2 separate regions of the Homo sapiens genome follow, and region 1 is linked to region 2. Evidence: fine-mapped expression QTL. A gene starts in region 2. The other region holds a variant in brackets. All regions are shown on one strand. Distances are from middle to middle.

Region 1 (5,367 bases), 73 kb after region 2:
TTCCCAACACTGGCACTCTCCCTCTCCCCAGCCTTGTCTGCCTCTCCCTCCCAAACAGAGGATGTATCTTTAGTAGAAGCAAACACCAAACCTGTTACATAGAGGCTTCTATCCTCAACTCAAAACCTCTGCTGCCCAGGATTCTCACACAGCTCCACTGGATGTGATTCTCAAACAATCTGCACTTTCCAGAATTACAAAGCATAAGAGGAAATAACCCTCCATAAGTGAGGACAAAACCTAAACTTCCCACTAGAGCCCTGGAAGGCCTGCAAGTTCTGGCCCTTCAGGAGCTCATCCCTCAGTCAATTCCAGTCACAGCGGCCTGCTCTGGGCTCCTGAACTCACCAAACTGTTCTCATGTCAGAGCTTAGGATCTACTGCTCCCTCTGTCTAGCCAGCTCCTAATAATCCTATAGGTCTCAAGGCAAGTGTCACTTTCTCTGAGAGGCCTTCTCTGACTCTGTAATCCAACCTAGCTTCCTTTCCTGTGCTTTCTCATAGTATTCTGTCCTGTTTTCTTTCTAGCACTTATCAACATTTTAAGCTATAAATTCGTCTGCATTTCTTCATCGTCTGTCTATGTAGACCATGACTCCACGGAGGCAGGGTGAGTGTCTTACTTCTTCCCCTCATTATCTGGCACATGGTGGCACATCTGATATTTCTGTGAAATGTGAACTGCCTGTGAGAGGTGCTTATACATGTGGGGGCTAACGTAAACGTCCACCCTGAGTATAAGATGACCATCTAGCTGGTGCTACAGGATCACTGTATTTACCCACAAATATTGCCCCAGGGAAGAGATGACCCTCTTTCCACCTACTGAAAACTACTAGCATCTGGCCAGGCACGGTGGCTCACTCCTGTAATCCCAGTACTTTGGGCGGCCGGGGTAGGTGGATCACCTGAGGTCAGGAGTTTGAGACCAGCCTGGCCAACATGGTGAAACCCTGTCTCTACTAAAACTATAAAAAATTAGCTGGGTGTGATGGTGTGTGCCTGTAATCCCAGCTACTCGGGAGGCTGAGGCAGGAGAATCACTTGAACCCGGGAGGCAGAGGTTGCAGTGAGCCGAGATTGCACCATTGTACTCCAGCTTGGGCAACAAGAGCAAAACTCCATCTCAAAAAAAAAAAAAATCTACTAGCATCTGGCTAGAAAGGAGGTTGTCATCCATTCTGAGAGGAACAATACATAGTTGTGGTTCATTCTAATGCCAGAATCCCTTTCCCATTCCTTGCATGCCTGCCTTTCAATCTGGCCAAGAACTATTGCGATAACCTCCTAACTAGCATCTTTACCTCCAGCCTTACCCATTCTAAATATATCATATGTGGGGTCAGGGTACGGAAATGATTTTTCTGTCTATATCTGGTCACTCTACTTGCTTGCTTCAAACCTTAAAACAGCTTATAATTAATTAAATCATTTGACAAACATTCTTGAGATCTTATTGTATTTTAGGCATCATTCTGGGTGCTGGTGATAAAAGTAGAAAACAAGGCAGACAAAGTCCCTGTTCTCTTGGAACTTACATTCTAAGGGAGTCAGGATAAGGTCCTACAAGATAAAGCTCCAAAGCTCCAATGAATCTTGGCATTCAGGGCCCATCGTCATGTTTTTTCTCACCTGCATCTCTGAACAGTACTTTTCACCCATTCTCCACCCAGATATGGGTCATGTGATGTTCAAAGGATGGGGAATGAAAGATCTTGTCCAAAGATAGACAGCCACCAAGCACTGAAGTTGGGATTCTATCCAGATATGAAGGCTTGAAAGCCTGGCGCTCTTGTAGGTGTATCTCAGGCACTGACACACAGTAGGCGCTCAAAAGTAACTTGCTGATGGACTTGATTCATATTGTCACATGTATTTTTCCTTCTTTTGACACCTTCCCAGGGTGGCACAGATTTCTTCTCATTTAGCCAAACAACAAATTACAAAGTGTGTCTTCAGAGGTTCTAAGACTAGGTCTAAGAGTAACCACCTATTCAATGGAGAATGAGTGTTAAGGGATGTGTAGGAATTGAGAGGGTTTTGTGAGCTGAGGAGAGTCCAGGGGGCTCCAGGTTTATTACAGCCTCCAGGGTTTCTGTGAGCGCTATAAATTTTGCAGATCTTTGTAATTCCAGGGATAATGGCGACTCCAGGTATGAGGCATGTTCCACAGGCTTAGCTGGCTCGTTTATCTTGCTTTTCCTGAAAGCGAGGTGCAAAATAGAACAAAGAAAAAAGAATGTTGGAACAGGTCTAGAGGTGAGGTATCCAAATCTTAAAAAGACACCCCCTTGTGCACAGAATTAAGGCAACATGGAGTGAGCACTGGCTTAGCCCTTCCTCACAACCCCATGGTTAAAGCCTGCAACTCGGTCTTCTCCATCTGGTCCTCTCTGTGCATCTTCAGTACCCATAACACTGACTGTTCCTTAGACTCCTCAGGGAATCTTGCCTGACTTCCTCAGGTAGGTTTGGTCCCTCCCTCTTCTGCACCACCGTAACTCCTGGCTCAGCATCCCCTACTGTGAAGGTGCCTTCTCGACCAGTCTAGTTGCTCTCTGAGGACAAGGCCTAGGTTTGGCCCATTTCTGAGACCCCAGCATTGTCGAGCACAAAGATTAGGAGATATTGCAGGAAATATTGGTGGAATTTAACAGATGGCTTATCTACAAAAGGACACCAACTGTTCATGCAGGGTGTTAGGAGGGCAGCAGGATAATTCTGATTCTGGAGAATCATAAACGGTAAATAACAGTGAGGC[A/G]TAGCAACCTCGGACACTGTATCTTCCAAGCCCTGCTGAAGATGTGGGGTACAGGGTGAATGAAGGAGTAACCTGGGCTTGGCCTAATCTCTAACCACTTCAGGCTGACTTGGCCTGTGGCATCTACACCAAGCTGACTGCTGCCGGCCATACACTCAGAGGCCAAATCCTTGGTTTCCACTCTGATGCTACAACTGCTATTAGGATTTTCCCCAACTGCCTTTTCAGTGGGGATTCAATGTAATGGTGTGTGCGTGTAAATTGATTTTAATTGTTCTTTAAATTGTTTCTCTTAACTTTCATCCTTCTCCTCTCTGGGCCTTAGCTTCCTATTTATAAAATGACCTGAAAGCACACTCTAGCATTAGGTATCCTGCAAGACTGAGGATGATAACACCTTCAAAACACTGTGTGCTCCTTTCCCTGTGGGTCTTATTATCAGTATTCCGATAGACTAGATTCCAGACACAATAGGTACATACCAATATCCGGCTCTCAGAAAATGTGGCGACTACGGGTTTTCCTGGTTCCTCAGGCTTCAGAGACATCTCAAGTTCTTGGCTTGCTCTGACTTTAGAGCTCTTTTTTGCTCTGATCGCTGCAGCTTTCTTCGCCTGCTTCTTTCTGATATGTTTCACTCTAAGGAAATAAGCCTTGGATTGGTTCTGGCTCTCCATCTCCCTGAATCCCCAAATGGGCTCTATCTTGACCAGAACTTCTGATTTAGAGCCTCAACAACAGTACCAGCTTGCTGTATGACCTAGGGCAAGCCACACATCCTCTCTGGGAATTAGTTTCACACTCTGAATAAGGGGGATACCCTGCTTATTAGGCTGTGGGGCTCAGATGAGGTCAGCTAAGAAAGGGCCTTGCAACTGGCAGAGAGATTGTTACTGGTCTTCAAGTCCTGTTGATTATACTTTGAAAATAGCTCCTCAGTTTGCCCTGACACCTCACTCCTCATCTTTGTCTCCCCATAGCCAGCCATGCCCAAGTCCCACCTCTCTGGCTGCCCCTCATCACTTGCCCCAGGTCAGGCCTTCTATTTCCTGCTTAGTCCCCTGCACCAGCTTCCTGCCTGGCCTCTGACCTTCTGGCTCTCACTCTCTCTAATCTGTGTCCCACCCCAAGCTCAAGCTTTCCTTCACAGCTTAGCACTCTTCCATGGCTCCGAAATGAGGATTCAGTCCAAGCTGTCTGGACAGGCTCCCCTGCCCGTCTCTCTGGCCTGACTTCCTGCAACTCACCCCTTCCCACTCCATGCTTCTAGCTAATACATGCAGCTAAGTTTTAACACCCTGTGAACCAACACCAAGGATGTCTTTCAACCTCATTTTTAGCCATTACCTGGTACTCTCAATGCACCTGACATTATACAAAGACACTGGAAATGCCTCAAACATGCCTCTGGGCGTCTGCATACAAAGGTTAGATATCCCTTATCTGAAATGCCTGGGGCCAGAAGTGTTTCAGATTTCAATTTTTTTTTTTTTTTTTAGATTTTGGAATATTTGTTTATACATAATGACATATCTTGGGGATAGGAGCCAAGTATAAAAACAAAATTCATTTATGTTTCATATATACCTTATACACATGGCCTGAAGGTAATTTTATATAATATTTAAAATTATTTTGTGCATGAAATAAAGTTTGTGTGCATTGAACTATCACATGAGGTCAGGTGTGGAATTTTCTACTTGTGGCATTATGTCGGTGCCTCGAGAACTTTTGGACTTTGGAGCATTTCGGATTTTGGATTTTTGGATTAGATACTCAACCTGTACTATTAATACTTTCCACCAAGCTAACGAGTACTGAACCCTTGCAGGCCCACCACAGACAGCACCCCGGGGACTCGCTGCTGCCTTTTCCAGGGCTGCCAAGTCCCTTCTTGGTCTTCTCCTTTATAAAATGTGTTCAAAGTGTCTGTTTTATGACACAGTTTTACGGTTCTGTATAGTCCTCATGGCCCTGGATTGTGGTGACCATGTTTGGTACATCTTTCCCTCTTTAGACCCTAAGCTCCTTGAGGGGAGGGGTCCTGTCTTTGCTCTCTCTGTGCCAGGGCTGCAGCCAGGGCCTGCCCGGTAGTAGGCTTGCGGGTGAATATTAACCCTAGTACTCACATGAGAGGGAGGAGGCAGAGGAAGAGCAGCGCAATTACAATTCCCGCATAGATAGCACCCTGGATCAGCCCTTTCACGAAGGCCTGGGCAGCCAAAGAACTCTTTCCTGGAAGCAGAGAGCATGTGAGAAGTTTGGCATCGGAGCCAAAACTCTGCTCCATTCTCTAGCCCCAGTGACTGTCCCCATCCCGCTTATTGTCCTCACCCAGTCACCGAGCCCCCTCCACCCTCACTTGACATCAGTAGGATGCTCAAAGCATGGGTTCCGTTTTGGTTCTTCCCCTCACAGAGAAGTCTCATGCCCATTTCTGGCTCTTCAGTTAGGCTGATGGTGCTGTTAGCCCAGGGGCCAAGCATGGTGGAAGTCACTTGGAGGCTGCCATCCATGCCATCCACACCCACGGGGACTCCTCCCATCCACCACTGCACAGAGGGTGTGGGAATCCCATGGAAGGAACAGCTGCACTGCAGTGTCTT
Region 2 (5,367 bases):
CTCACCCACATAGCCAGCAAGCTGGCTGGGGCTGCTGACCAGGGGCCATGATTCCCCTCCATGGGGCTGCTGATCCTCGCAGTGTGGCGGCTGGATTCCATGAGGGAGTGTCCTATGATACAGAAAGTGGCATATGCCGGCCTAGATGCAGATCCTGGCACAGGGCCACTTCCACGTCTTGGTCCAGCAGTCACACAGCTACTCAGATCCAAGCAGAGGGGACATAGACCCCGCATCTTAACAGGAGGACGCTCAAATTTGCAGCCCTCTTTAAGCTACATCATCTACTCCATGGAGTTTTGAAAGGTTAATTTATGTAGCACCCCCATAACCACACCTGCTATGCAAAAAATGCTAAATATATATTATTACCAATATTAGTCCGGGCACGGTGGCTCACGCCTGTAATCCCAACACTGGGAGGCTGAGGCGGGCAGATCACTTGAGGTCAGGAGTTCATGATAAGCCTGGCCAACATGGCAAAACCCCATCTCTCCTAAAAATAACAAAAATTAGCCTGGTGTGGTGATGCACACCTATACTCCCAGCTGCTGCAGAGGCTGAGACGGGAGAATCACTTGAACCCGGGAGATGGAGCCTGCAGTGAGCTGAGGCACTCACTGGGTGACAGAACGAGACTCCATCTCAAAATATATATATATTACCAGTATTATTACTGGTGAGAACTGGGCCAGGGTAAGCTTAGAGGACTGGGAGCTGAGCAGAGGCCCTAAGCTCCACATGGGATGGTGGGAAAAGCTATCAGAAGGAGTCAATGGTCTGACCATCCTGGTCCCAAGTCCAGCTTCTCCCTCTGGCTGTGCAACCTCCTGCAGGTCCCTTGACCTCTCTGAGCCTAAGTCCCCTGGCCTGCAAAGTGAGTATAATGACACTCAGCTTATAGGGTGTTTAGAAGTGTTCAGCCTGATAGTGCATAGGAAACATTTAGCGTAGTTCCTGGCTCAAATTAAGTGGTAATTATGGTTCTTAATAAGGTGAGACCTGAAGGACAAGTTGTGGTTTAGCCAGGTTGGAGGGAGGTGGAGAGTGGGAGAGAGCATTCCAGGTAGAGGACTGGGAGGTGAGATGGGCGGGCAGGATAAGAATGGCAGGATGTTCAAGTGCTTGAGTGGGGGCTGTGCATGAGTTTGCTTTGAACCTTGGATGTCTCCAGAGGGCACTGGGGAGCCAGGGGAGGGCTGTGAGCAGGGGGAGGCAGGTTCAGCTCTGGGTATAGAAGGACCCTGGCAGGGAATGGAGGAGACTGGGCAGAGGAGGGAGACGGGGCAGGAAGAGAAGACAGAGCCTGGCCAGTGAGAACTAGGGGGAGGAGGGTTGGACTCAGATCGACAGTGGTGACAGGGAGGGAGGAGGTGGGAATGTTCTCCAGCATTTGCGAAGACAGTGAAGCCATCCTGGAGGTGTGAGGAAGTTTGGGTTAGAGGAAAGAGTCTGAGTTTAGCGGGACACAGGCCATGTGAGGGCCTCGGGGATGCGGAAATGCAGCTCTGGTCTCAGGATAGAGGCCCTGGCAGGAGATAGCACCTGGAGACTTGGTTCTGAGGGCAACAGAGAGCCGTGGGAGGGTTTGGAGCAGAGGAGGAGCAGGGTCAGATGTATCTGAGGCTGCAGGCAAGACAGAGTGGAAGGAGCCAGGAGGCTGGGGAGGAGGAAGCCTGCTCTGAAGCTGTGGCCATCAGAGGTGGGGCTCTCGGAAAGGTCACCTCACCCTCCTCCAGGAAGTCTTCCTGGCTTTGTCTCACAAATTTGCTCCCACATTTTTAGCTGGGAATGTTTTCTCCAGCTTCCCCCTGGGGGTGGGGAGGGCAGGGATCAGGCTGGGCCTCTCTGCAGATGGGACCAGCTAATGAAGAGAGTGGGATGAGGTGGGCAGCTCAGCCACCACACTGGGGTTGAGGATCTTGGCACCTCCCTCTGGGTCTGGCTCCCTTCCCCTCCCAGGAAGCTAAGCTACCAGTCCTGTTGGACTCGTCTGACCCGGGAGGGATGGGTGCAGTCCTGGGTCTCTCTCCAGTGTCCTTTCAGTGAGGCCAGCACCATGGACAACCCACAGGCTCTGCCACTCTTCCTACTCCTGGGTAAGTTCCCTGCTCAGTCCCTTCCCTGTCAGTCTCCCTCAGCAGCCTCCCCCAATGCCTTCCTCTCTTCTCTGCAGCCTCCTTGGTAGGGATCCTCACCCTCAGAGCCTCTTCTGGACTTCAGCAAACCAACTTCTCCTCTGCCTTCTCTTCAGACTCAAAGAGCTCTTCCCAGGGGCTGGGTGTGGAAGTTCCCTCCATCAAACCTCCCAGCTGGAAAGTTCCAGATCAGTTCCTGGATTCAAAAGCCTCTGCTGGAATCTCTGATTCCAGCTGGTTTCCTGAGGCCCTGAGTTCCAACATGTCTGGGTCCTTCTGGTCAAATGTTTCTGCTGAGGGCCAAGATTTGAGCCCGGTTTCCCCCTTCTCTGAAACCCCTGGTTCTGAAGTATTTCCTGATATTTCGGATCCTCAAGTTCCTGCCAAAGACCCCAAGCCTTCCTTCACTGTTAAGACCCCAGCTTCAAACATTTCTACTCAAGTCTCCCATACCAAACTGTCTGTTGAGGCCCCAGATTCAAAATTCTCCCCGGATGATATGGATCTTAAACTCTCTGCCCAGAGCCCTGAATCCAAATTTTCTGCAGAGACCCACTCAGCTGCAAGCTTTCCCCAGCAGGTGGGGGGCCCACTCGCTGTGCTGGTGGGGACCACCATCCGGCTCCCCCTAGTCCCAATCCCCAACCCTGGGCCCCCCACCTCTCTGGTGGTCTGGCGCCGGGGCTCAAAGGTGCTGGCAGCTGGGGGCCTGGGGCCAGGGGCACCTCTGATCAGCCTGGACCCTGCTCACCGAGACCACCTGCGATTTGACCAGGCCCGGGGGGTTCTGGAGCTCGCCTCTGCCCAGCTGGACGATGCAGGGGTCTACACGGCTGAGGTCATCCGGGCAGGGGTCTCCCAGCAGACTCACGAGTTCACGGTGGGTGTGTATGGTAAGTGGGCCCTGGCGTCCGGCGTGCAGGCGGCAGGGGCTGCTCTGCTCTGCCAGGCTTTGGGCAAGTCACGGTGCTGTGGGGTCCCTGGATAGGAGAAGAGGACTTCTGGGTTGAGGAAGGGAGAAAAAGAGCTAGAGGTCAAGGCAGGGGTGTCTGAGCAAAGGTGGACCTGGGATGGAGACTCCTGGGAGCCTGAACTCCCAGGTCTGAGGGAGGAGGAGGAGGCTAGGAGCCTCTTCTGGCGAACTCCTGGGTCCCGGAGAGGAGGTGTCTGGGGGCTCAAACTCATAGGTTTATGAGAGGAGAGGGATGGGGGCTGAGACTCCAGGGGCTTAGAGGGAGCAGCGGCTGGGGTTCCCTCTAAGGGGACCAAAGATGGGCTCCAGGACTGGGTGGGTCCTGAGCCCATTCTCCCTCTCCCAGAGCCCCTACCCCAGCTGTCGGTTCAGCCCAAGGCTCCAGAGACAGAGGAGGGGGCGGCCGAGCTCCGGCTGCGCTGCCTGGGGTGGGGGCCAGGTCGCGGGGAGCTGAGCTGGAGCCGGGACGGACGCGCCCTGGAGGCGGCGGAATCGGAGGGAGCCGAGACGCCCCGGATGCGCTCAGAGGGCGACCAGCTGCTCATCGTGCGCCCTGTGCGCAGCGACCACGCCCGGTACACTTGCCGCGTCCGCAGCCCCTTCGGCCACAGGGAGGCTGCCGCCGACGTCAGCGTCTTCTGTGAGTGGGGGATGCCTCGGGTCGGGGACAGGGGGTCCTTGGGGAGAAGCGGGCTGGGGACCCAGTCTCCGGGAGTCCTAGCGGCGTCCCAGGTGACCCTGACACTCGCGGTCCCGACCCCTCCTCCCTCCAGACGGCCCGGACCCGCCGACCATCACGGTCTCCTCGGACCGCGACGCCGCGCCTGCCCGCTTTGTCACCGCGGGCAGTAACGTGACCTTGCGCTGCGCCGCCGCCTCGCGGCCGCCCGCCGACATCACGTGGAGCCTGGCGGACCCGGCCGAGGCCGCGGTGCCCGCGGGGTCGCGCCTCCTGCTGCCCGCGGTCGGACCGGGCCACGCAGGCACCTACGCCTGCCTGGCGGCGAACCCGCGTACCGGCCGCCGCCGCCGCTCGCTGCTCAACCTTACAGTGGCGGGTGAGAGGCTGGAGCGGGAGTAGGGGAATGCCTGGGAGAGGGGCGGGGCCAGAACGAGGGCGGGGCTAGAGGAAAGGGGCGGGGCCAGCAAGGAGGAGCAGCATACCGGTGGGTGGGGCAGGGCCAGCGGGAGGGCGGGTCACCAAGAAGGAGCTGGGATACCCGTGGTGGGGCGGGCCAGCGCGGAGGGGCGGAGACACCTAGGATAAGAGGCGGGGCCAGAAAGAGGATAAGGGAAGGAGCCAAATAGAGTGGCAGGGATGACCAGGACTGACGGGCCGGCCCAGCACTGAGAGGGCGGACATTCCTGGGCATGGAACACTCGACAAAGTCGACAAGCGGAGTTAAATGGCAAAGAGTGGGAGTTAGAAAAGGAAAGAACTAATTTGCTTAAGTGGGATCAGCAAAGGGAGAAGTTACCTGGCAAGGGGGGCGGAGTCACCAGGGAAAGGGGCGAGGTCATTTAGAAAGCGGGCAGAATTGTCTTAGAAAGGGGAAGGGGTCCACAAGGAAGGGCGGAGATATCTGGGAAAAGGGGAGGCTTCTCGGAGTGCAATCCAGGAGGGGGCGAAGTAACCTGGCAGAAGTGGGTGGAGCTGGAAAGGAAGGGGCTGAGTTACGTTTGGGAAGAGAAATATCATTGTGTGAAGATGCAGTTTTCTTAAGAAAGTTGGGCAGTCAGCAGGGCTGCGGGCTACCCACTTAGCGAGGAAGTTAATGGGAAAAGGGAACGGGATCGCAGGAAAAGTGGGGAGTGTGAGCGCCTATGGGGTGGGGCTAGTGAAGAAGGGTGGAGTCACCGCGCGGGGAGGCGGGGCTGGAGAAGAAATGAGAAAGGGACTCCATCTTCATTCTCTCCCTTCTCTCCGCAGACCTGCCCCCCGGGGCCCCACAGTGCTCAGTTGAAGGGGGTCCCGGGGACCGCAGCCTCCGCTTCCGCTGCTCGTGGCCCGGCGGGGCCCCTGCTGCCTCCCTGCAGTTCCAGGGTCTCCCCGAAGGCATCCGCGCCGGGCCAGTGTCCTCTGTGCTGCTGGCGGCCGTCCCCGCCCACCCCCGGCTCAGCGGCGTCCCCATCACCTGCCTTGCTCGCCACCTGGTGGCCACGCGTACCTGCACAGTCACGCCGGGTGAGAGGGCGCGGGGCTTTTTTGCTGTTTCTCGAGGAGGAGGGAGACTTTTTCTTTGGTCCTTCGAAAAT

Evidence for each region.
Region 1: its variant is fine-mapped to the expression of VSIG10L in cerebellar hemisphere (GTEx, PIP above 0.99).

What each region holds. Positions count from the first base shown.
Region 1 is chr19:51,265,406-51,270,772 of GRCh38, reverse strand. SIGLECL1 (SIGLEC family like 1) reads right to left here. Exons shown (of 6, transcript NM_001385465.1): 3 at 5,124-5,367; 4 at 4,891-4,996; 5 at 3,244-3,400; 6 at 1,443-2,202. The coding sequence ends at 2,176. It overlaps LOC107985327 (a long non-coding RNA gene), which reads left to right. Exons shown (of 4, transcript XR_007067309.1): 2 at 529-610. Among named protein-coding and RNA genes, the nearest start is that of LINC01872, 3.2 kb to the left of the region's middle. The variant A/G (reference allele first, on the strand shown) is at 2,762.
Region 2 is chr19:51,338,817-51,344,183 of GRCh38, reverse strand. It overlaps VSIG10L (V-set and immunoglobulin domain containing 10 like), which reads left to right and starts at 2,045. Exons shown (of 10, transcript NM_001163922.3): 1 at 2,045-2,099; 2 at 2,177-3,031; 3 at 3,458-3,751; 4 at 3,885-4,169; 5 at 5,042-5,296. The coding sequence starts at 2,060. VSIG10L-AS1 (VSIG10L antisense RNA 1) reads right to left here and starts at 4,164. Exons shown (of 5, transcript NR_186316.1): 1 at 3,467-4,164; 2 at 3,010-3,118; 3 at 2,199-2,334; 4 at 373-496; 5 at 1-112. RefSeq lists silencers at 4,011-4,280, 4,931-5,270.